Linked DNA regions of Homo sapiens: regions 1 and 3 are each linked to region 2. Evidence: fine-mapped expression QTL. A gene starts in region 2. Each other region holds a variant in brackets. All regions are shown on one strand. Distances are between the middles of the regions. Region 1 has its middle 23 kb from the start of LAMP5. Region 2 holds the start of LAMP5 (lysosomal associated membrane protein family member 5). Region 3 overlaps PAK5 (p21 (RAC1) activated kinase 5).

What was found. PIP is the estimated chance that this variant, and not a neighbour inherited with it, causes the effect.
Region 1: its variant is the best candidate, but not a certain one, in a credible set for the expression of LAMP5 in whole blood (TOPMed, PIP 0.70).
Region 3: its variant is the best candidate, but not a certain one, in a credible set for the expression of LAMP5 in whole blood (INTERVAL, PIP 0.81).

What each region holds. Positions count from the first base shown.
Region 1 is chr20:9,487,051-9,495,237 of GRCh38, reverse strand. No RefSeq gene overlaps it. Among named protein-coding and RNA genes, the nearest start is that of LAMP5, 23 kb to the left of the region's middle. The variant G/A (reference allele first, on the strand shown) is at 4,946.
Region 2 is chr20:9,510,167-9,518,353 of GRCh38, reverse strand. It overlaps LAMP5 (lysosomal associated membrane protein family member 5), which reads right to left and starts at 3,764. Exons shown (of 6, transcript NM_012261.4): 1 at 3,438-3,764; 2 at 2,729-2,901; 3 at 2,223-2,354; 4 at 1,993-2,098; 5 at 126-314. The coding sequence starts at 3,501. It overlaps LAMP5-AS1 (LAMP5 antisense RNA 1), which reads left to right and starts at 3,356. Exons shown (of 5, transcript NR_109957.1): 1 at 3,356-3,590. RefSeq lists enhancers at 2,245-2,829, 7,148-7,197.
Region 3 is chr20:9,536,374-9,544,560 of GRCh38, reverse strand. It overlaps PAK5 (p21 (RAC1) activated kinase 5), which reads left to right. Exons shown (of 10, transcript NM_177990.4): 8 at 67-192; 9 at 1,841-1,975; 10 at 4,944-7,191. The coding sequence ends at 5,099. Among named protein-coding and RNA genes, the nearest start is that of LAMP5-AS1, 25 kb to the right of the region's middle. The variant A/T (reference allele first, on the strand shown) is at 4,450.

The sequences.
Region 1 (8,187 bases), 23 kb after region 2:
TAATATCCTTCTTCCAATCAAGAGGTGGACCTATCTTCCCTCCCCTTTGAGTCTGTGAGTCTGGGCTGACCTTATGACTTAATTTGACCAATGGCATAGACCAATGGAATATCATGGCCTAGGCTTTAAGAATTGATTCTGGCAGTTTCCTTTGTTGCTCTCTTGAGATTCAGCGTCCAGGTAAAGAAACTTGAACTTGACCACTAAATGTGGAGAGATATGTGGAGAGGGAGCGAGCAGCCCAGGCAGACATCCCAACTGGGGCACCAGATGTGTCAGGAAAACCATGTTGGACATTTCAGCCCCAGCTGGGTTCCCAACCAAGCACAGCCATACAAGCGACCCCAGTCAATACCAAGTGGAGCAGAAGAACTAGCCAGCTGAGGTCAGCCAACCTAGAGCACCATGAGAAATAATGAATTGTTGTTGCTTCAAGCACTCAGTTTTGGGATAGTTTGTTATGCAACAATAGATAACTGGAATAAAGGGCAGAATCACATGAAGGTTTATAGGCTTAGGAAAGGAGTTTGGCCTTTATTTTTAGTGGAGAGGGAAGTATTATGGGATTTTAAGCAGATGACCTGCACAATCAGTCTGATTTATACTTTAAGAAGATCACTCTTCTACTGCGTGCAGAGAGGATTGCACGAGCTCAAGAGTGGATGCAAATGAAACCAGGAAGCTGTTAGAGTGGTCAAAGCAAGAGATGACATTGGTTACAACCAGGGTGGTTATCTCAGTAGTGTTGAGAAGTGATTCCATTTCAGAAATATGCTGGAGGAGGAGCTGATAATACTTATCGATTATACCAAAGGGACAAGAGAAAGCCATTAATCGAAGATAATCCTGAGAGTTTTAACCTGAGGCTGGGAAGGAGCAGGCAAGAAACCCAGGAATTCTAATTTGAATAACTTAAGTTTGAAATGCCCATTAAATTTCCAACGGCAGCTTTGAGTATTTGAGCATCAACAGGGAGGTCATTGCTGGATGTATAAACCTGAGACTCTGATTACCAAGGATCCTTCTTGCCTCTTGAAAGTTGGGTGTGTTGCTTTATCCTTGCTCTTAGAGTGGGGTCCATTTTCTCATACAAATGCAAAATATCACTGAACCCAAATATTAGACTTTTACATTAAGAAGAAAATTTAGAAAGGCACACTGTCTTTGAGACAGAGTCTCATGATTTTCTTGGCACCCGGCATGCATATCTGCTAGACTTGGGATGATTAATGGACAAGATTGTTTGTGACCCACTTATGGGCTGTTTCTTCCATTATAAAGCCTTTGAAATCTGGAAAGCTGGCTGGATTCAGTTTCAACTGGAAATGCACCATCCTTTTTTTTGTTGTTAATCATTAAACAAAGCCCACAATGCAGTCATATCTTTAGAGGTTTTATTGTTACTAAAATATAGCACACATTACGGTATTTGTGTCTTTCATGTTTTCTGTCCTAATGGCTAGAATATCTAAGATGGGAAATAATAATGCAGAGCTGGTTAGTTCTCACTGACTTTGATAGTTAATTTTGATAATTCAAGAGTACCTTATTTTAGATTATTCGGGACTTTTGTTGTTTCTATTTCTTGCGAATAACGTCCATACCGGAGGATAGCCAGAGAAAAAGAAAAGAGGAAGCAAATAACTCTTAATATTTTTTCCTTATCAAATAATCCACTAAGAAAATTTCAGGATGTGTCTTTTTGCATAACATTGAGGAGTCTGCCATCTAACAGGAAAGTTAAGGCACATATATGAACATCGGGCACACTCCAGCAGCTGGAAGTATCATTTTTTTAAACAAAGTAAGTCTACTTTGAATGTTCTCTCCCAATGCTGCTAACTCTCCAAAGTTGAAGGGGAGCCCACTGCAGTAGACACTTTTGGTGCCCCACTCATATTCCCTTGTCTCCTCAACCTCCCATAGCTTTAGTACTATCTCATTCATGCCTAAGACTTCCTGCCTCTGGCACATGCAGCTCTCTCCCTGAGGGCTTCTCTGGCTCCAGGAGCTTGCTTGGCCCATGAGGGGCTGGCTGGAGCTAGCTACTAGGGAGTCACTACCCTCAAGAAAAACTCCCATCCAAAGAGAAGGGAATGCTGATGGATAAATACCCCTTGTCTCCACCCTGGTGGGACAATTCTGAGGTGTGTGCTACACCATCCTGCCGAATATCTAGGGGGATTGTGCCCATCGCCCACAGAGGTAACATTCTCCGTAATTATTCCTTTATTGTTTTACTTCCATCCCCCAAACCCTCATTCTATTTCCTGGGATCACCTCCAGATAAAATACTTGCACTCAAATTTTTGTCCGAGGCTCTACTTTTTGCAGAACACACACTGTGACATCCCGCACCATTTGTCTTCTTCTTCAGAACCACACAATCACACTACGGCTTTTAAACACCTGGGGAGTGGGGGAGGTGCCCACTCCTCAGTCCCAGAGGTCACTGTAGCCATTGTCTCCTGTCCAACCCAGCAAGGGCAAGCGTGCCGGGCCCAAGGAAGCCTTCATTCTTGGCAGCTCTCTTTGTCTGCAAAGGTTCCAAAAGCAGCAGAAACCAAGGCTTGGAATCAGTCAGGCAGCAGAACCATCTAAGGTTCTGCCACTTCCTGGCCCTGGACTTCAGAAACCCTGTGTCTTTGAGGGCTCCAAGGAGACTTTGTTGCTTCTCCTCCCCGAAAGCTAGAGTTGGGTTCCTGCCACTCTGCCTCTGCACCCCCATCCCTCCCCTCTTCTCTACTCTAGGGTAAATGGGCTAGACTGAAGGCTGGCAAACTTTCCTTGCAAAGGGCCAGAGAGCAAACATTTTAGACGTTGCAGGTCATATGGTCTTTGTTAGAAATCTTTGACCCTGTTGTCATAACGCAAATGCAACTAGAGGTCATATTTAAGTGGATGAGCATGTCAGTGTTCCAGTACAATTTTTTTATGGACACTGAAATTTGAATTTCATATAATTTTTATGAATCACCAAATATTTTTCTTTTAACATTTTTCCAACCACAGAAACATAAAACCCATTCTTATCTCATGAGCCATATAAAAACGGGTGAGAGACCAGATTTGGCCAGTGGAATATATAGTTTCCTGACTCGTAGACTAGACTTTCAAAAGCAAAGTTCTGTTTAGATTTTATTACCCTGCTGAACTCCCTTTTTGATTGGCATTCTTTAAACCAAATCTAATTAATATTGGGAATGCATGGGATTTATCAAATCCTGAGGTATTATCAACAAATAAATCCTTCTAGTGCAGGGATCATGTTTCTTTGCATTTTCCTCACAGCACCTTGTATGATGGTATCCATAAATTAATTTATAACAGCACCAAAAGCAGGGAGTTTATTATTTGTTCATTTATTTTATTTTATTTTATTTTGAGACCGAGTTTCACTCTGTCACCCAAGCTGGAGTGCAATAGCATGATCTTGGCTCACTGCAACCTCCGCTTCCAGGGGTCAAGCGATTCTCCTGCCTCAGCCTCCTGAGTAGCTAGGATTACAGTCGCCCACCACCATGAGCTGCTAATTTTTTTTTTTTTTTTTTTTAAGTAGAGACGGGGTTTCACCATGTTGGTCAGGCTGTATTATTTGTTCTTTACTGTGCTAAGTGCTGTACTGAGGGGCTCACTCACTCATTTCCTCATTTGAAGCAGAAATGATAAAAACTGTACTAATAGGTTGCCATGACAATGAAATGACATTGTGCCTTTGACAAATGCTCTTTGTTCATTGTAAACTGTCAGGTGGTTTTGTGTTCATGGTTTTTAAGAATAGGATGTGATGATCTCTATGACAGTGTGGTGGTTCTACAGAGAACAGAAATTTGGACCCAGGAGAATAAATGGGTTCTGTTTTTTAATCTCCATGGTGTTGCTTTGTGACCTCAGATTCAACATTTGTACAATGGTGATAAGGTTCTCCATTTGCCTGTAACATGAAAATTAAATGAGAGAGCTCACTAAATGCTATAAACATGTTAGATTTAACTTTAACATTCGGAGTCTGTGCTATGAGTGTGTGTGTGTGTGCGCGTGTGTGTGTGTGTGTGTGTGTGTGCGTGCATGTGGTGTTTAGGCAGAAATCTAAGACGGCCCCCAATACTCTCATCTCCTTGTACATGTACTCTGAATAACCCCTTCCCATGAAGCATGGGCAGAACCGTGAATCTGATAAATTTAACTTCCTTGATTAGGTTGCATTACCTGAAATGGGGGAATTTTGCAGATGTAATTAATTTAGCAGATATAATAAGTCAAACCAGTTGACTTTGAGGTAATCAAAAGGGAGATTATCCTGGTAGGGGTGACCTAATCAAGTGGGTCCTTAAAAGGAACTGCTAGATCCTTCCTGAAAGAGGAATGCTAAAAGAGATTCTGCTGCTGGCTTTGAATGGGTAGGCTGTCATGTTGTAAAGAGGACCTATATATACGGCCTTGTGACAAGGAACTAGGCAGCTTCTAGGAGCTGAGAACTATCCTTGATCAACCAACAGCCAGCATGGGAGTGCGGATTTGAATCATATAACTGCGAATAACTGAATTCTGAAAATAACTACTTGAACCTGGAAGTGAATCCTGAGCCTCAGATGAGAACACAGCCTAGCTGACGCTTCACTTTAGTCCTGTGAGATTCTGAGCAGAGAATCCAGCCACACTGTGCCCAGACCTTTGACCTACAGAATTGTGAGATAGTAAGTGGGTTTGCAGTAACTCTGTGGTCATTTGTTATGCAGTAATAGAAGAGGAATACAATGTGAACTTGCAATCTACATGAGGTGATAAGAATAAGTGTGTAAAAGACAAAAGTCTAGAACTAATGGCTAACAGACGTGGTCTGGGTCATAAATTCTGCATTCCATTGTGAGTAGGGAAGAATTTGGAAGGGTGTCATGGGATGGAAGCATCATAGACAAAAGATTCCTGAGATCCATCTTTTCTC[G/A]TGAAAGGAAGAAAAGAAAGCATTTTGTTAGATAAGGTGGGACTGGAGCATGGGAAGTTTGTGCCTCCACATAGTTTGAGGTCATGAAGACAAAGACAAGCGAGTGTTTCAAGAATGGGGCAATGGTTGACTGTGTCAAACATTGCAGAGAGGTTTTGATGAGCATGTAGAAGAGACACATGGGATTTGGCTAGGTGAAGGTCATCCACATCTTAAGCAATGCCAATGGACATGATGGGAGTTTAACAGTGAGTTTACCTCCACATTTGTAATCCATTGATATTTGACAAGGATGCCAAGACAATTTGATTGAGAAAAAGTTTTTTCAACAGAGGCTCGGTAGATCTCTAGAACTTATGTAAAAACAAAAACAAAAACAAATGGTTCTGGGACAACTAGCTATCCATATACAAAAGAATGGCATTCACCCTTACAGTAGATATAAAAAGAATTCATAACGGATCAAAGACCTACATGTAAGAGATTAAACTATACAACTCTTAAAAGAAAGCAGGCATAAATCTCAGTGACCATGGATGAAGCAATGGTTTCTTAAATATGACACCAAGAGCACAAGCAACAAAAGAGAAAAATAGACAAATTGAACTTCATCAAAATTTAAATTTTTGTGTTTCAAAAGACACCATGAAGAAGGTGAAAAGGCAACCCACAGAATGAGAGAAAAATTTTGCAAATTATATATCTGAAAAAGGACTAGTATCTAAAATGTGTAAAGAACTCCTACAACTCAGTAATAAAAAGACAACACAATTTAAAATGAGCAAAGGTTCTGAGATATATATTTCTACAAAAAAAGATATACAACTTGCCAATAAGCACATGAAAAGATGCTTAATACCATTAAGGATCAGGGAAGTGAAAGTCGAAACCATAATAAGATACCAACGACACACACACTAGGATGACTATAATAAAAAAGGTAATAAGTATTGACAAAGATGTAGAGAACTCAGAATCTTCATACACTGCTGGTGGAAGTGTGAAATGACGCAGCCACTTTGGGAGACAGTCTGGCAGTTCTTCAAAGAGTTAAACGTAGAGTTACCATGTGACCCAGCAATTCTACTCCTAGGTATATACCCAAGAGAAAAGAAAACATACATCCACACAGAAACTTGTATGTGAATGTTCATAGCAACATTATTCATAATAGCCCCAAATCAGAAACAACCCAAATATCTATTAACTGATAAATGAATAAATAAAATGTATTATCTTCCTTTAAAGCTTGGTATACTGAAAAAGTTGGAATTTGTCTCTTCAGAGGTATCTAATGAATATTACTCTATTAAACATCTTATTGAAATGAACTTTGCTAACCAATTATTAAAAGTATATCAATCTAATACATTTTTCCAAATATTTAAAATCATACCTTTATATATCATGCAAAAATAATGACATGATATTATTTTAAAATTCCTAAAAGAGTTTCTATAGAGTATGTATTAAGATGAAGAGGAGTTCTCAGCTAAAAAGGTAAACACAGCCACAAATGATCTTCAAAATACCACTCTTTGAACACTTAGGATATGCCTGGAACTGTATGTATTAAATGATTCAAAAGCTAACTTGATTCTCACAGCAGCACCATGAGGTAGGTGGCATTACATCCATTCTACAGATGGAAAGCTCCAATTCTGCGGCATTAAGTAGGATGCCTGAAGTCCGCAGTTAGTGAATAGCGGAGTTAGGATCTAAGCTGTAGTCAGTGGGATCCCAAATTAGACTGTTAATTGCCACACTGACTTCTACAAGTAGAAAGTTTCATCTATCTCAGCTGATCCCAGTTGCACCCATTTCCATTTTGCTTTGCACTATCATTTAATGTTACTGCAGATCCCCTTGGGAGAATTTATGCCAAATTCATCATCTGGGTTCTCTTTAATCTGACAGCTGCCACCTTTCCTAAGTGGATATTTCTGCTATTTTTCTCGGGTGTGTCATTTCCTGTCCCTTGTGAGAGGCTCTCTCTTAAGTTACTCTTGTATTGTTTCAAATCATTTTCTGTTGCAGACTTGGAGAGTTGGCATGGAAAATGCTAGAAGGGAAGAATAAAGAGAGTCTATTCCACATCCAACTCTGCCTCCCTCACTCAGCACAGGCTTTTGAGAGGAGTAGAATAGTTTCCTTGTGGAGCAGCAAAGCCTGCTGAATTAATTTTATGCTCAAAACTCTTCTGAGTAATTATGCCTCTTCGATGGTTTCCACTAGGCAACAGGCTTCAGAAGTAAACTTTGTTATTTTGGCATCATCCCTATTGGTCTTCTGAATGTGTATATGTATTTTTGTATACTAAATTATATTTCATTCCCCCCATTCTCTTTATACCATGAACATATATCTATTGCTATATTTTTAAAACATGGGTTTAATTGAGAATTATACATGCAATGGAAGACACAAATCTTAGGTGTATTCCCTGATTCCCTGATCAATGTTTACCTGTATAAACACCCATGTAACCTCCACGCAGCGTAAGTTATAGACCAGCAGTTCTCAAAATCTTTGGCCTCAGGGATTCCTTAACACTCTTAATATTTTTAAAAAACTCAGAGTTTGTTTATGTGAATTATATCTGTAAGCATTACTATGTTAAAAATTTGAAACAGGAATTTCAAAATATTTCTCAATTCAATAAAAATAACAAAACTGTCACTTGTTAATATATAACCAATATTGTACTATTACAATAACTTTTTTGTGAAACATAACTGTATTTTCTAAAAGTTGGTGGGAGGAGTGGCATTGTTTTACATTGTTGCAAATGTCTTTAACGTATGGCTTTACAGAAGTCATCTGAGTTCTAATGTCTTTTTCTTCATTCGGTCTGTTGTGATATGTCATTTTCACTGCAGTATATGAAGAAATCTGGCCTCCCACAGAGACGGATTTGGAAACAAGAGGACTACACAGACCCTCTGACAGTCTCTTGGGGGACACAATGGCTTGCCAAGGGATCCTTGATACACACTTCGAGAACCACTTGCATAGACCATCACCATCATCCTGGAAGGTTTTTTCAGAGAGGACCACTACTCTGACTTCCTTCAAGATTAGCATTGCCTTTCCTTGATCTTCATGTATGTGGAATCATAAGGTAAGTACTTTCATGTGTTCTACCCTGTGAATATACTACATTTCATCAATGCATCCTCCTATTGGTACACATCTGATTTGTTTCTAGCTTTTTATTATTATGAATAAAGAACATGCTTTTT
Region 2 (8,187 bases):
GCAGGCAGTGTCATTTCAACCTAGAGGAAATCCAAGTGGTAACATCCTGGGGCCCTGGTAGGTCCCTCTCTCATCCTTCCTGAAATAAACTAGGTCTTCTTCCCCTCCATCCCCCAACAACTTACCTTCACTGAAGACAAAATCTGAGATAATGTCAAAAGGTTGGATGTGGACCGCAGACAGGATCATGGTGACCGTCTTCTGCGGATCACTAGAGGCCAGTGAAATGGTTTGTTGAGCTTGACACTCATAGGACTTCCCAGCGGGGGTGACCAAGGCAGAGAGGTGGTGCGAGTTGGCTGTGTGCTTCCCAGCTACAGCAAGAGCCCAGAGCAATAGTTAGAACCCTCATTGTTCCTAACCTAATGTGCCAGAGAGCTGGCTATTGCCTCTCAGTTCCAGACACCACACCCCTCCTGTCCTCTCTGTTCCCTTGCCAGGGCTAGGGCTCTACAAATGGCATCAAGTGGTGATGAAGGACAAACACACCCATTATCTTGAGAGCCAGGGCTCTTTCAATATTAATTTGGAACTCCTTTTTTGAAGAGGAGAATGATACTTAAAAACCCAACCCTTGTTACTGTATAAAACCTAGGCTGGGCATGGTGGATCCTGCCTGTAATCCCAAAACTTTCAGAGGTCAAGGTGGGAGGATCGTTTGAGCCCAAGATTTCTAGACCAGCCTGAGCAACATAGTGAGACTCTGTCTCTACAAATACACACACACACACATACATTTACAAAATTAGTCTGGCATGGTGACACATGCCTGTAGTCCCAGCTACTGGGGAAACTGGGGTGGGAGAATCTCTTGAGCCCAGTAGCTTACTCCAGGCTGTGGTGATCTATGGTGGTGCCACTGCCCTCCACCCTGGTGGACAGAGTGAGACCGCACTTCAAAAAAGAAAAAAAAAATCCCTAATAATGGAGATTCCAAAGACACAGAAGGAACAGTGACTTGGTTTTCCACATTTCACACGGGCCTGGCAAAGAATAAAACATCTTCCTCAACAAAGCCGGACAGATTGCTGGTCCTCTGGATGCTTGTCCTTACACACATACATCCCCTCTGAAGGTCTGCCTCCCATTGCTCTTTTTCTGACCTAAGTTTGATTTTTCCTTTTTCCTTTTTGGTCTAATTTAACTGGGGGACATCTTGCATCTAAACTTTGATGAAAAAGAAAAAATCCTCCTTTTACTGTGATAACAAAAAGGGGTGAAAAGGGAAAGATGACACATGTATTTTTATGTATTCAATAAAAATCCTTTCCCAACTCAGGTGCCTGGGTGATGAAGGGCCTCATTATGAGTGAAATAGACAACTTATAAAGAATAAAATAAATTTAAATGTGGTCTTTGACGGTGTCTGCAGATAGGAATATTGTTATTTGGGGGATGAACGCTCGTTTTGCCGAGGAGGATCTGGCTGAGTTGTCGGAGGGATGGGCCAGAAACGCTAGTAAATTATACATGGTGCAGAATCCACTGTCAGGTAGCTGCAGTCGATGACTGAATATCCCGTGCGAGCCATGCTGCCATGCGCAAAAAGACACTGAAGGCCATCACATCCTGACTGAAAAGGAAAGTCGCACTGCCCCCTTGCAGTTTTAGCGCATAAGAAACAAAACCAGGATGCGGAAGAAAATTAAAATGCAGCTTTGCCCTTCTCCGTGGTCCTTCAAAGGCCAAATCATAAGAGGTCGTTTTGAAGCACCAGGGAACGACAGGCCTTCAAGGGACTTCTTATCTAGGATCAGGCCACGGGTGACGTTTGGGTCCCCACGCCTGCGGTTCCTGGCGGATCTACAAGGCCTGAGACCCAGAAGACTCATGGGCGCTCCCGCCTCTTCCGCCCTAAAGAGCAAGCCGAGGGAAGACTTGGCCTGGGACCTCAAAGCGTGGGACGGTTTCCAAAACCTTGAGGAATTCTCTCTCCAAGCCTGTTCTGCGAGTTCCCAGGCTCCCTCCCCAGCCATGCCAGCCTCCACTCACCACTGACTGCGTCTTTGAAGTGGGTTTTCTCCGAGGAGTCGTAGACAAACTGCACTTTGCTCAGCCTCCAAGTCGCCTCAGGTCCCTTGGACATGTTGTGGCTTTCCTGTTGAGCCGGGGAGGTGCGCTTCAATCGTCCCCGCAGCGTCTGGGTTCTTAAACCTAGGGGCCGCCACTTCCCACACCCACGCGGAGCCTGCGGCCCCTCTGCCCGCTGGGCTCGGAGTTACCTTTACAAAGAGCATTTTGAGTGCATATGCGCGATCCACCCAGAACACTTGCAGCTCCGACTGGCTGTGGCCACAGCGGCCCTTCACCTCAGCTCCCCGGGTCAATGCGATATCGGCCTGTTCTGTGATCAGCTGGGAACACAGACGCCCCGCGCCCCCTCAGCTCGCCCGGCCCCGGGGCGGGGGCTGTAAAGGGCGGCGCGTCCAAACTCTGGGTTGCACGCTTGGGCGCTCCTTTGCGCGCGCGCATCCCAGGTTCCGGGAACATGCGGTTAGATGCTCTACGTGCAGCCCCGATAGGGAAGCGGAGAGAAGGGGGTTTACTTTCAAAGCAGGCAGGGGAACAGAAGGCATTACAAGCTGGAATCCCCATGCAGCATTCGGGAGCAGCCTGCCGGGGTGTGGGAAAGAAGGCGGGCAACCCAGGTCTTCGAAGAGCCTTGAGGAAGGGTGCCCTTCGCCCTGGAGCCCTAGGAGCAAGCTGAGGGGGGGGAAAGATTCCTTACATCTACGTAGTTGCTGGCCCACACATCATAAGGTACAATAAATTTGGCTGCAAACTCTGCCATGAGACACGTCGTCCCATTTTCCCGCACCACAAATATATCTTTTTCAGGGTTAGTGGAAAGGCCTGAGAGATTTTCCACTTCTTGTTCTGCCATGATTTGAGCCATTGTATCTGCGGAACAAACAAAACAATTCCATCAGTTCAGGGCTCAGCCCACGCGTCTCGGGCGCTAGGGTGGGGAGACAGTGCTCTGCAGGCTTTGGAGTGACAAAGTTCTCTGCCAGCAGCTGTGCGCTCTACGAGCCGTTTCTCTAACCCGGGTCTAACAAGCCTCATTCCTTCGCTGTTAATTTATAATGAAAATACAGTTAAAAAAATTAAAAATCCTGACTTTGTTTGTAATATAGCTGGCTGTTTTCTACATCTTGGGATTTTAAAGTAAATATTTCTTGCCAATGCTCTGACCTCACGAAGCTGGCCTGTCTAGGCTCTGTCTGGAATATGCCACAGAGGTGTATGGCTCTCAGGGGAATTCCCTGCCACCGGCGAGGAAGGCCCTCCCTCCTCCCCTAAAAGAAAAAAAGAAAAAACACCGCAAAACATTAAGGGCCATATTTTTTATCTCAAGCTAATTGACTTTACTTTGCCGGCTCTGTTCTCTGCAAAGAGTGCCCGTCCTCTCTCCCAGTCGCCAAATCGCTACTCACGGAACAACATCAGGAGAACTCGAAGTCTGTCGATGCTGGGGACCCCTCTTCCTTGGAGATCCATACTCGCAGTGCCCCGAATGAGGCCGGCTGTGCTGCTGCAGAGGCCGCCAGAGAGGGAATCCCTCAAAGTCGCCGCTGGAGTGGGCCGGGGTGAGCGAGAGGCGGGGGACAGAGAAGGGGGAGGGAGGGAGCGCGTATTCTGTGAGCGCCTAGCTAGGACTCGGTGTCGAGCGCGGCACCGACAGCTGCTGGCAGAGCAAATCGGCTCACTGCGGAGGAAAGGACCGCACGGCGGTCCACGGCTGCGAGTGCTGAAAGCAATCCGATTGTGTGGCAGGAGTGGCTGTGGCTTGGCTTGTGCGGAGGGCCAATGAGATCTGGGGGGACTAAACTTCTCCCTGGGTCTGTTTCCTGTTCTGCAACTGCATCCGCAAAGATGAGTCTGTTCTGAGAAACTTAATACCACCCTCAGCCTTATTAAATCTCCTTACCAGGTACAGTTATTAAGTGGTGTAGATACCTTATCACTGGAGTACTGTCTTCTGAAAACGCATCTGGTTCCCGAAAGAAAACGGTGGAGCAAAAATTGTTGCTGATTCGGGGGAGGAGGGCTATGCAGGAATAGAGAAGGGAAAATGCTATGGCAACAGTTTCCTGAATTTGGAGACATCCCCTTCTCTCCCCTGCTCTCAATGAGCTCATGGGTTTAAAGTTAAATTGACGCCTCCTCGAACGAGGCCATCAGACAATGCAGTAGCTCCATGTGGGCTTATTTTCCTGTGAATTTTGCTCCCGGGTGCATGAGGACTCTGAACTCTGGGGTCACCTACCCTCCCGCATTATACTGTGACCACTCTGCCAAAAAGGGATGCAAGCAAATCAGAAGTTTTTGAGAGTTATCTAGTGTCTCCTAGGACAGAAATTTTAGAATTATGCCCTAAGTAATGTCACATAGTTATGTAAGAAAAACACACACTGATATTACTCTAAAGCCTGTAGTGGAACAGAAGAACAAATACTACTGGGCTAATTCCTGTATTTACATATTTGGTAGCTTGCTTATTTTTTATTTTTGCTCTGTAAATCAGAATACAGCTTTCAAAAATACACATGCAGTCCTCATCAATTGTAGTGATGTCCAAATATTTTATTCCTTAGAAGATATTTCATAATGCAAATAAATGTTGCATCAGTAATATAATGTTATAAAACAATGTCATATTAAAGGGAAAATTGCAAAGTATTTCACCTGCATTATCTAATTTGATTCTCCCCAATCTTAGAGGGTAGGCAAGGAAAGATATGAGTTACTGTGGTTTTACATACCCCAAAACTGAGGCTCAAATAAATTAAATGACCTTCCCAAATGTCACATGGTCAGTTAGAATTAAAATACAAAAATCACATGCTTTAACTCTGTGAGATTATCTTCATTTCTCCTTATATAATATTTTTACTCCATATTTTGACTTCCATAAAAATCTATATTCAATATCAAATAATAATCTGAAATCTGAAATCTCTATCATTAATTCACATTCTTCAAATTTATAGAATGCTGTTTTAAGTATAATCACATTCTGACATATCTGCCACAAAGTATCTATATAATGTTTTTGGCTTTCAAACATATTCCTATATCAATCATTAGATCACTAGCAATTCAAAGTATAAAGTAATATTAAAATTGACATTATATTTTGACATCTTGACTTTTATGTTTGTAGTTCAGTATTTCATCCAAACATTTCTCAAGAACTTTACAAAGATGATTATATATAGAAGAATTGATGCAAATTTTACAGAACTTAACAGAAATGATTTTATACAGAAGATTGATAAAACGTCAGTTCTCATCAGTTGAAAGTGGAAGAGATAACATTTGTATGTGTTACATTTTTTCATGTTAGCAATTATTATTAAACACTTATTTTCCTGTAGTACTGTAAAACTGGAAAACAATGAGACATGTAATAAAGTATTTATTCTCTCTCTCTCTCTCTCTCTCCAGTATTTTATGAGGACAGAAATGAGTAGATTTCAGTCCAGGATTCACTACTTATTATTTTTGTGACCTTCTGAAGATTTTATTTGTTCTCATCTGAAAAATTGGGAAAATAACTCAGGGGATGGCTAGTTAAACCAAATGGGCCAATGAGTATAAATAAACAAAGTACAAATAGATCCATAAACATTAACCGAATACTTACTACTTCCAGTATGCTTGATGCTTTGAAAACCAAAAGATATTTATCATTACACAAGTAGGAGAGACACCTATAAAAGATTTTGACAATTTCTCTTGCAGTATGTTATTGCAGATATCTTCACTATATAAGTTGTTAAAAGATCAACTGAATTAATTCATGATTATCTGCCTTAATAATAAAAGATTAGGTGAGTAGTAGCATTGGTCATTGATCTTAAAATGTAGTAGTTGATTTACAAATGAGATGGTTGTTCCTTTGAAAATTATACCTGATATAAATGATCTCTTTGTTGACACTGGAGAGTGTACCCTAGAGTACTCAAATGGGTTGAAAGAAGAAAGAAAGCAATTTTAACTCTTTTTTTCTGGGGGGATTATTTTCAAAGCACAATCAGTTTAATGACTTTTTTAATATTTAATCTTAAACATGGCTAACAAATGCCCATTAATTTATCATCTTATCCACTGTGATACATTGCAATAGGAGTTAGGTCATTATACCTACAACTTTCACCTACATTAATTAAATATCTTTCTAATCATTCTGGAAAAAAACTCTTTGGTTCTCTAAAATAAGCAAAGAAGTGATCAAGGAGCAAAATTTGCCATTAAATTGCATTTTAATATATTAACAATGTTCCCCAGAATTTGCTCTACTTTTCATTTCTCAAGTCTAAAAGATGGTAGGAGAAATTGACATAAATATGTACACCTGTGTGGGTGGTAACTGTGTCAATTTTTATTATTGCTGCTGGTGGTCAGTAGAAACTGTTAGGGTGCAGTGTGACCTAAACACACTGGATTTGGGATCTCCTCTAGATCTTCTAGGTCCTTCAAAGGCTGTTTTTCAATTCATATGGATACTTACTGAATTAGCCTTTATGAATCTCATGCCATTGAGTGGTTGCTGTTTTATAAAAGGGCAAGAAGAGGCCCTTGCATAGAACTTTCAATTTGGATGAGAAGAATTTACATAAAGATTCCAGTTAGCCTAGCACAGTGTCTGCATAAATGTTCAGGGGGAAAAAAAAGTAAGACAGGCATCCCAGGTGGGAGAGTGGTTGAAATTGATGAAAAAAGGTCTCTTGGAGAAGGTGAGTCTTGAAAGAAGTTGACAAACTGATGTAGGGTGGAAGGAAGGATACGGATGGAAGAAATATCTATTGAATAGGGAATCAATGCAAAGATGTAACTCTTCATCCATCCATATTTATCCATTTGCAATAAAAAGCAAATTAGGCCGTAAATCAACAATGCCTTATGTACTATAGAACCCCTATTTCATTTCCGTATTTGATAATTTACCCACATATGGCATATGCAAAAGAATGGCCTATGCAAAATTTATTCTAAATAAAATTAAACTTTTTAAGTTGTTAGGGGCATCTTTTCATACTTGGTTGTGCAAGCAATTGACTTGTATTTGTAGAATCAAGAAACAAAACTATGAAAATTAGTGAACAATACTAATAAGAAAAGCGTATTTATAGCTTCAAAAGGAAAAGGCTGGGCTTTGTTGCAGCTGAAATTTGGTTTATTGAGGTTTCAGTTCACTTTACAGTAAAGTGTAAAAATGTACTCCTTGCTCTGTTGTTCCCACAGCCACCAAGCCATCCCTCTGCAACCCACACACAGACAACGGACGCACACCCGAATAACAGAAGCAGAAATAATTTAAACAAACAAGATGCATGCAGCTGTTAAGCCAGACTTTCTACTCACCAAAACTTTTCTTGTGTTCAGCTTATCATAGAACAATTAATTCATTTAGTCATTGCCTTCAAAGACCTTCGCAACCCTTTCTAGGATCTAAACTCTTGTGGGACAGAAACTGAAAAATAAATGTATGCACAAGAATTATTTTTCAGTTTCTATCCCACAAGGGTTTAGATCCAGAGCAAAGAGTACAAAAATAAGTGTGCGCATGAGCAATGTATGCACAAGAATATTTCGCACATACATTGCTAAGCCCTAGAATATTTGGAAAGAATCAGAAAATTGAGTTTAGGCTCCAATGCACTCAGTCTGCATGCCCTTGGTGTAATTTTCCTCATCCTAGTGCTTCTTTGGTGTCTCCTGCATCTACTCTAATGAAACAATGGTTATTTCTGCAATAACGGTAACCAGTGGAGGAAACAAACCACCAGAATAACGGCCTTTTTATTGGCTATGTTCACACTAAGTCCTGAAAAAAATACCATTTATGAGTTCATTTAGAAGAATTGCCTTCAGCATGGGGCAATATAGAGAACTGCATCCTTATAGCAAACCCTAAATAAGTAAATGGTGAGGGGCCAGGTAATCATTCCTCAAAATTTCAGTAGCAAATAAATCATTTTTGTCTTTTGAATCCGTGATTAGTTAACTGTTCTGGTCAGTCTTACATTTTTGGTCAGTGATACACAACTCACTCTGCTATCTCGGGAGGGAGGAAAACCTTGTTAACTTCTGGGCAGGGCACCTTTCTGTAAGGTTGAATTAAAACTCATTTGAGGATTTTAAAAAATCTTTAATGAGTCTGTTCTCCAAGAAATGACA
Region 3 (8,187 bases), 26 kb before region 2:
TGTATTTTCGTGTCTAGCAGACATTGTTTTAAAATTGCTAGTTTGTTGCATTCCTTTCCTTTTCAGATAAAGTTGTCTGATTTTGGTTTCTGTGCTCAAGTTTCCAAAGAGGTGCCGAAGAGGAAATCATTGGTTGGCACTCCCTACTGGATGGCCCCTGAGGTGATTTCTAGGCTACCTTATGGGACAGAGGTAAGGGGGTCACAGTCATAGGCGTGGCAGGACTGGGGACAGGCTCAGGGACCCATTGGTTCTGAGATAGTTGGTGACCACAGGAGATGGGGGCAATGACTTTTAGCTCCACATTTGATCCCCACTCACTAGATGAGGCACAGAGTAGATAGGCTGTGGCAGGTGGGAGCCTGGCCACCCCTGGGGCAGATCACTGCAGTATTTATCCAAGGGCTGTTTATTGCAGTCCTACAGTGGACACTGTGGGAAAGTCACTCCAACTCTGATCCCACTCTCAGTAGCAGGCACACACACAAAGCAAGGCAATGCAACTTGCAAAGTGGCTGGAGACATGCAGATGAGCAGGCATGAGAATTCAGAGAAAGGAAAGAGGATCAAAGAAAGTGCCACAAAATAGAGGTGATATTTAAATGACCCACTGTTTTCAACACAGTTTACATCTCACAGTGAAGGACCTACACTGTTTTCTCATAGGAAAAAAATAATATGTGAATCATAGTCAAAAACATGGCACAATTTCTGTTTCCACTGGAATGAAAACAATCACTCTTAATCTTTTAAGAGGTAGGGCCTGGAAATGTGAAAATGCAGGGCCAGAGGAGTAGAGGAAGGGCCTTCTTGGGAGGTAATAGCATGGGTGGAAGCTTAGAGGCACATAAGGCTACATACAGATGGAAGCCAAGGGGTATGTTTCGGCTAGGCATAGTGTTTCCACACTTTATGGTGTGGATGGTGAATCTGGGAGAAGAGAAGCATGAGAAGACATGGCCGTGAGCTAAGGACATCAGCATAAGTTAAGGCAGAATCTTTCTCTTTCTCTTGTTTGCTTGACCTTGGATGAGTCCTCAACTTGTTTTTCTCACTGTGGTCCTGAGAGAGAAATTCTCGGTGAAGGTCACTGCAAGGGGTAATAATAGCAATACGTTCATCAGATAAGAGGTATAATGAGGCCCTAACAGGAAACTTTCCTAACAGGAAAGTGAGTGGGACTGGGAGTTTATAGCACAGTGATGGCTCCTCATTGTCTCGACTTCCCATTCTTTACTACTTGCTTGTCATCTCTTCCTTTTCTTTTCTCCAATCCCTGAAAATGCTTTTGTAAAGTGAGGTTTTGTGCATGCTGTTTTGAAATGATAATAAAAGGTAGTGGAAGGAAATCCCAAAGTAGGGGAGAAAAGAGCTATTTTTAAAAGCAAATTAATAAAAGAATCAGAATATATTCTGCATCCTGCAAGGTAGCCCTTTGCAGTTTGTTACAAATATGTCAAAACTTTCTTATTTGCTTATGGTTTAAATACAATTTTCTTCTCCATTTTCATAGCATTAAACCGGATGATTTTCTCATCTGCCCTGATAGACAGTTAACTACTAAAGTTTACAGAGTAAAAATGAAAGCACTAAACTTTAGAATGTTAAAATATTCATTTATGTCTGATGGGTGGAACCTTCACTGAAGTTGTCCATAAAAGGCAAAGACTGTTAGCAAAAACTCGGTAACCCAGCAGTTTAGCCTATAAATCTATATTGTAAATGTTGAGAGGTTACAAGTGCCATAGTCACTTGTGAATGAGTATGAGGTTCTGTGGACACACTTGACATTTCAGAATGTTCTCCTTGCCTGAGATAACCAGTAGGGTGTGCCTAACAGGTGGACATCTGGTCCCTCGGGATCATGGTGATAGAAATGATTGATGGCGAGCCCCCCTACTTCAATGAGCCTCCCCTCCAGGCGATGCGGAGGATCCGGGACAGTTTACCTCCAAGAGTGAAGGACCTACACAAGGTGAGAAACAGCAGCTGTTGCTAAAGTTCAGAATAGTTTTTGGATTTTCCTGTATCTCTCTGGTTTTTAAGACTGGCTTACCACATCCAGCAGGAAGATCCTGGTTTATGAGCATGGACTTTGGAAATAGTCACTTAGGTTTGAATCTCTGTTCTTCTATTCGTTTACTGGGCAAGTGACTCAGCCTTTCCTATGCCAAAGTTCTTCATCTGTAAAATGGGTTATGATTGGCCTGTATCCCAAAGGGTTGGTTAGAAGAGTAAATCAGGTGCTCTATGCCATACTCATTCATTCAGCATCTATTACATGCTGGGGACATCTAATAGCTTGGGATGTCACCGTGCATGACCCCAGCTTTTCTGACTCTGGGGTCTAGACTCTGCATTCTAGTTGGGGAAACAGATAGTAAACCATAAACAAACAAATAAATAAAATAATTTCAGAGTGTGGTACATACTATGAAAGAAAAACATACTGTGATGTGACAGAGTGTGCAGGAGAAGGGATTGAAAGCTGGTTGTATGAGTCTGTTTTTACACTACTATAAAGAAATACCCAAGACTGAGTAATTTACAAATAAAGAAGGTTTAATTAACTCACAGTTCCACATGCCTGGAGAGGCCTCAGGATACTTACAATCATGGCAGAAGGCGAAGGGGAAGCAAGGCATGTCTTACATGGTGGCAGGAGAGAGAGAGCGCACAGGGGAAATGCCAGACACTTATAAAACTATCAGCTCTCATGATAATTCCCTCACTATCTTGAGAATAACATGGGGTAAACTGCCCCCATGACCCAATTACCTTCCACCAAGTCCCTCCCTTGACATGTGAGGATTACAATATGAGGTGAGATTTGAGTGGGCACAGAGAGCCAAACCCTATCACTGATTTAAGCTGAAGAGTGAAGGAAGCCCTTTCTAGGGAGGGATCAAACGAGCTGGGACCTGAATAGGAAGAAGGTACCAGCCATGCAAAGATCTTGGAGAAAAAGGTCCCAGGCACGGGGAGCATCAAGTGGAAAGGCCTTAAGCCAAGAAAGAAGGCTTACATTGCTGGAGTAAAGTCAGAAAGGGGAAAAAGGTAGGTCTTGTCAGAGAGATGGGCAGGAGCTAGATTGTACAGGGCAATGAAGGTCATGGTTAATATAATGCATGTAAGAGACCGAGTGGGGTCTTTTCTGTTTTCCAAGGATTGCCAATTAGGACGAGCTCAGAAAATAATGATGCTTCATCCAAGAATCACCACTGTAGGAGCTGCCAGATTTCCAAAGGACTTGCTCAGAGGATCATTTCTGCAGGACTACTACTATAAACACTGGCCCCATACACACCTCTCTTCCTATCTTATGACAATAAAAGAGAGTGTGTGGCTGCCTTTTGGAGGAGAATTATTTGTAATGGTAATATCTCCTCCTTCCTCACCCCTAAATCTTAGGGAACAGCCCCAGTAGCATCACTCATATAGGTTGTGTGGACCTACAAAAACATAAACAAAAAAAGAGAGATTGAAATTTTTACTGGATTGGACTAAGTCTAAATAATGAAAAGTGGCTGGGTGTGGTGGCTCACGCCTGTAATCCCAGCACTCTGGAAGGCCGAGGTGGGCGGATCACGAGGTCAGGAGATGGAGACCATCCTGGCTAACACGGTGAAACCCCATCTCCACTAAAAATACAAAAAATTAGCCAAGCATGGTGGCGGGTGCCTGTAGTCCCAGCTACTCAGGAGGCTGAGGCAGGAGAATGGCGTGAACCTGGGAGGCAGAGCTTGCAGTGAGCCCAGATCGCACCACTGCACTCCAGCCTAGGTGACACAGCGAGACTACGTCTCCAAAAAAAAAAAAAAAAGTGACTAAAAATGTATCATATGAAAGTAGTCTCACACCCAGTGAGTGCCAATGTTCTTCAAAACCATGTACAAGAACAACTTTAATCCTAATGGTTTCAAAAAAACTGGAAACCAGTCCGAGGTTGTTTCCCAAATGGATAATGTGTGGTATAATTGGACAGTGAATACTACACAGTAATTTAAAAGATATAACTTTTGCCACACGTCGGAGATGAATCTCACAGATACAACACTGAGTGAAAGAAGCCAGATAGAGAAGAAATCAAATATATGACTCCATTTTGGTAAAGTACAAAAGTAAGCAAAACTAAGTTATGCTATAAATTAAAATAGTGGTGACCTTTTGCAGGGAGATAGGGGTTGGCAGGAAGGAAACCTAAAAGTAGCTTCCTAGAGTGGTAGAAAAGTTCTATATCTTGATAGGAGTGGAAAGTAAATAGGGGTAAATGTATGTAAAAATCCATTGAGCCACACTCTTAGTATTTGTGCAGCGGAACCTGGGCATGCTGGCACATGCTTGTACTCCCAGCTACTCAGGAGGCTGAGGTGGGAGGATCATTTGAGCACAGGAGTTTGAGCCTGGGCAACATAGTGAGACCTCATCTCTAAATATATACATAAAGTA[A/T]GATATACCTTTAAAAGGAAAATTACAAGACCTTCAAAGAAAAAAATGAGATGTGTTCGATATCCTTACAGAAGCTTGTTTCTCTTAAAGAAAGGGGTTCCACAGAGCCTGTGTGGTTGCAGTTGTTAGAAAAATAAAACGGCTCCCTGTTTATACTATGCTTCATCAAGCACGTGTGACCAGCACCTGCACATACTAAATATTTTGTAATAGCTGCTCTTATCACTGTGATTGCCACTGTTATTTTATGTAGTAAATAAGTTTTCATTCTTAGTTGAGCTGTCATTTACACCTATTATTTCACACTTGAAAAAGGTAAGGAAAACACGAAATGTTAACAAAGACAAGACATGCTTTTGCTTTCACAACATCTTTCTCCTTAAGGTAACTTTCTGGAATTTGAAGTTGTTGATAGGATGAATGGGGAAAACATTTTGGGGACTGGGTTAGGTGTCTGTGTTAGTCCTCAGATTGGTATCTGTGTGTTTTCACAGGTTTCTTCAGTGCTCCGGGGATTCCTAGACTTGATGTTGGTGAGGGAGCCCTCTCAGAGAGCAACAGCCCAGGAACTCCTCGGACATCCATTCTTAAAACTAGCAGGTCCACCGTCTTGCATCGTCCCCCTCATGAGACAATACAGGCATCACTGAGCAGAGGATTCGTGTAGGTGGCAAAGCTAGATGAGGACATGAGAATAATTCAGGAGAACAAAAGGAAACACAGAACATGCAAAAGGCCTGTGCATTCTAGACCAGCCAATTGGTGGGACAGCGTGATGACCGGCAGGGTTCAACAGACCAGGGCATCTTCTTGTGTCTTAAACAGGCATCTCTCCACTGACAGCCGGTGTGGTCACTTGGAGCACGGCTTTAATAAGTCATTATTATATTTTTCAGCCCTTCATCCAGCAAATCAGAAGGACTCAGTACAAACTCCGTTATGATATATCCTAGCCACATGCAGGGTAACATGTAGGATTTTCTATATTGAAAGAATACTTTTCTGGCAAAAAAAAAAAAAAAAGAAAGAAAGGAAAACAAAAAGCACTTTTTTCTTAATGGTAGCAGTATAATGTATTTTGCAACGAATTTGTAATTTTTCTGTACGATAGTTTTGATAATTTATAGTACTTTGATGTCATGTAGCCATTGTATCAGTTGAAGTAATACTTGTTTACTAGAGGAGTTTGAACAAAGCCTTTCCTACTTTTTTATCCCTTTAAGAGAACCAATGATTCTTTAGGAACTTTGAATACTGAATGACTCTCAATCACCGTCAGCTTTAGTAAAATCTCTTTCTTATCCTAACAAGTGTCTTATTTGGTGGAAGAAGAATTAAGAGTGATGGTGATGGTGTGCACGTTTCATTAATCCAACCAAAAATAATGAAATAAAATTTGAGCCACAGTATACCACTCCTTGGGATAAAGTTAAATATTTTTAAAGATCACATTTTCCATGAACGCCTCTAGTAGCAAACCATTCTTTTGCACACCACAATGTTTCCCTCAGTGCCCTTTCTCAAATGGGTACAATGTTCCCTTGTGGCCAAATTTCCCTCCCAGGGAGCAATTTCAGTGCTAGGATCATTGGATTCAGTTCCCAAAATAGAATGTTTCAGTGAGACCATGAGAATTCCAGGCTCACAAAGGGAGAGGAGAGAACAGGGCAAGACGTTTGGTTTCATTTGTCACCATTTTTAAAACTCTGTATGCTAGCACACCAAACTCTTGTCTATATTTACCTTTGTACCACAGTATTAATCGCTATTGTTCATGTATCGTGCTGGAAGTCTGAACTGACTCTAGAGGATGAATTAGCAAGAGGGTATTTTACCAGGTATGATCTGACTTCAGTTGTGCCCATGTTATAATGTGTTTCCGACATAGGAGAGTCGTGCTGCTGTCTAGATCTTCTTGAATGTTGATAAAAATGAATGACTACTACAATACATTTTGTGTTGCTTGTTGGATGAATTTGCATGTTAACTGTAGGCCAATATAGATTTGCCTTTAAAACTCTGGAAGAGCTACATAGTCATCATTAGTTTCTATTAATTATGCATCAGACAAAAGCCATTTGTTACCAAACTGGGAAAACAGAGGCTTTTCTTAACTATTTCACATACTGTAACAAATATGAATTTAAATTTGTGATAGCGCTCTGGTTGCTCTAAGCATAATTAAGAATTTTTGTAATTAATAGGTTGCTAATTATTTATCACTGCTAAAAAGGAAAAAAGGCATAAAATGACCTTCTACTGATTAGATTTTCAGTTTTCTTTCAAACTGGAAATGCCTCCATAAATATGATCTATGATTTTGCTTCATAAAACAGCAAATCAATGTTTTATGTAAAATATTAAAGCATTAATATAAATATGTGAGAATAAAAACAATCTAAATCCAGAAAATGGCAGTCCTAAATGTTCATGAGACAGATTGTATTAATTTAACCAGGACTATGTAGAAGTAGAAAGAAAAGAAAAAGAAAATCTTTTTTAAACCAGAATAAACATTAAAAACTATTGCAGAAAATAGTGGATTTTGGATTCCAAACATTTTCGACAGTGTAATGGAAATTTTTCTGTAATTTTCTTACCATCGGGTATTTTTTAAAGTATTCATTGAGTTTACCAAAAGTTACTGTAGCTTAAAAGGTTTTGTGAGCACTAACTATTGGCAGAAACTGCATTTGCAAATAAAAATAAATGTTTGCCTTTTCCCCATTGTGTTATTGGAAACAGTGATTTCTCAAATTTATTTTATTGAGTAACCAAGAATGATTTCTTTGTGATCTTGGGGAGTGCAAATGAGTTGGTACAAAGTTGTATGTAACATTGTGATGACATGACGTAAAGACAAATATATCCATCCCTAGGGATTGTAAAGAGTGTAAGATGGTGATGTCGATACCACTACTGAAAAAAAAATTACTAAATTCTGGAAGGCCACGTTCAAGGAAAGCCAGGTTCAGGGCTGAAGACTCTCATTCTACTTCCCTGTTCCAAAGATGCAAAACTGATCTGAGGGCTTTTTTAAAAATTAATTAATTAATTAATTATTATACCTTAAGTTCTGGGTTACATGTGCAGAACATGCAGTTTTGTTACATAGGTGTACACCTCTCGTGGTAGTTTGCTGCACCCATCAACCCATCACCTACATTAGATATTTCTCCTAATGTTATCTCTCCCCTAACCACCCACACCCTCACAGGCCCCAGTGTGTGACGTTCCCTTCCCTATGTCCATGTGTTCTCATTGTTCAACTCCCACTTATTAGTGAAAACATACGGTGTTTGGTTTTCTGTTCTTATGATAGTTTGCTGAGAATGATGGTTTCCAGCTTCATCCGTGTCCCTGCAAAGACATGAACTCATCTTTTTTTATGGCTGCATAGTATTCCATGGTGTATATGTGCCACATTTTCTTTATCCAGTCTATTATTGATGGACATTTGGGTTGGTTCTAAGTCTTTGCTATTGTGAATAGTGCCACAATAAACATACGTGTGCATGTGTATTTATAATAGAACCTGGATTCAAGAGGTCGTGTTGAGAGCTCTCTGGGAGCCTAGAAGATAATTTGGGCTCTCTCCTCCACTTTGGGAGACAAGGGGGACATTAACATTGATCTCGTGAAGCTGGAGGATGGGGGAACTTTTATATACACAGCCTATTTTCCATCCAGAAATGTTGGAAGGTAAAAACCCTCAGGAAGTAGCCTGAGCTAGCAGGA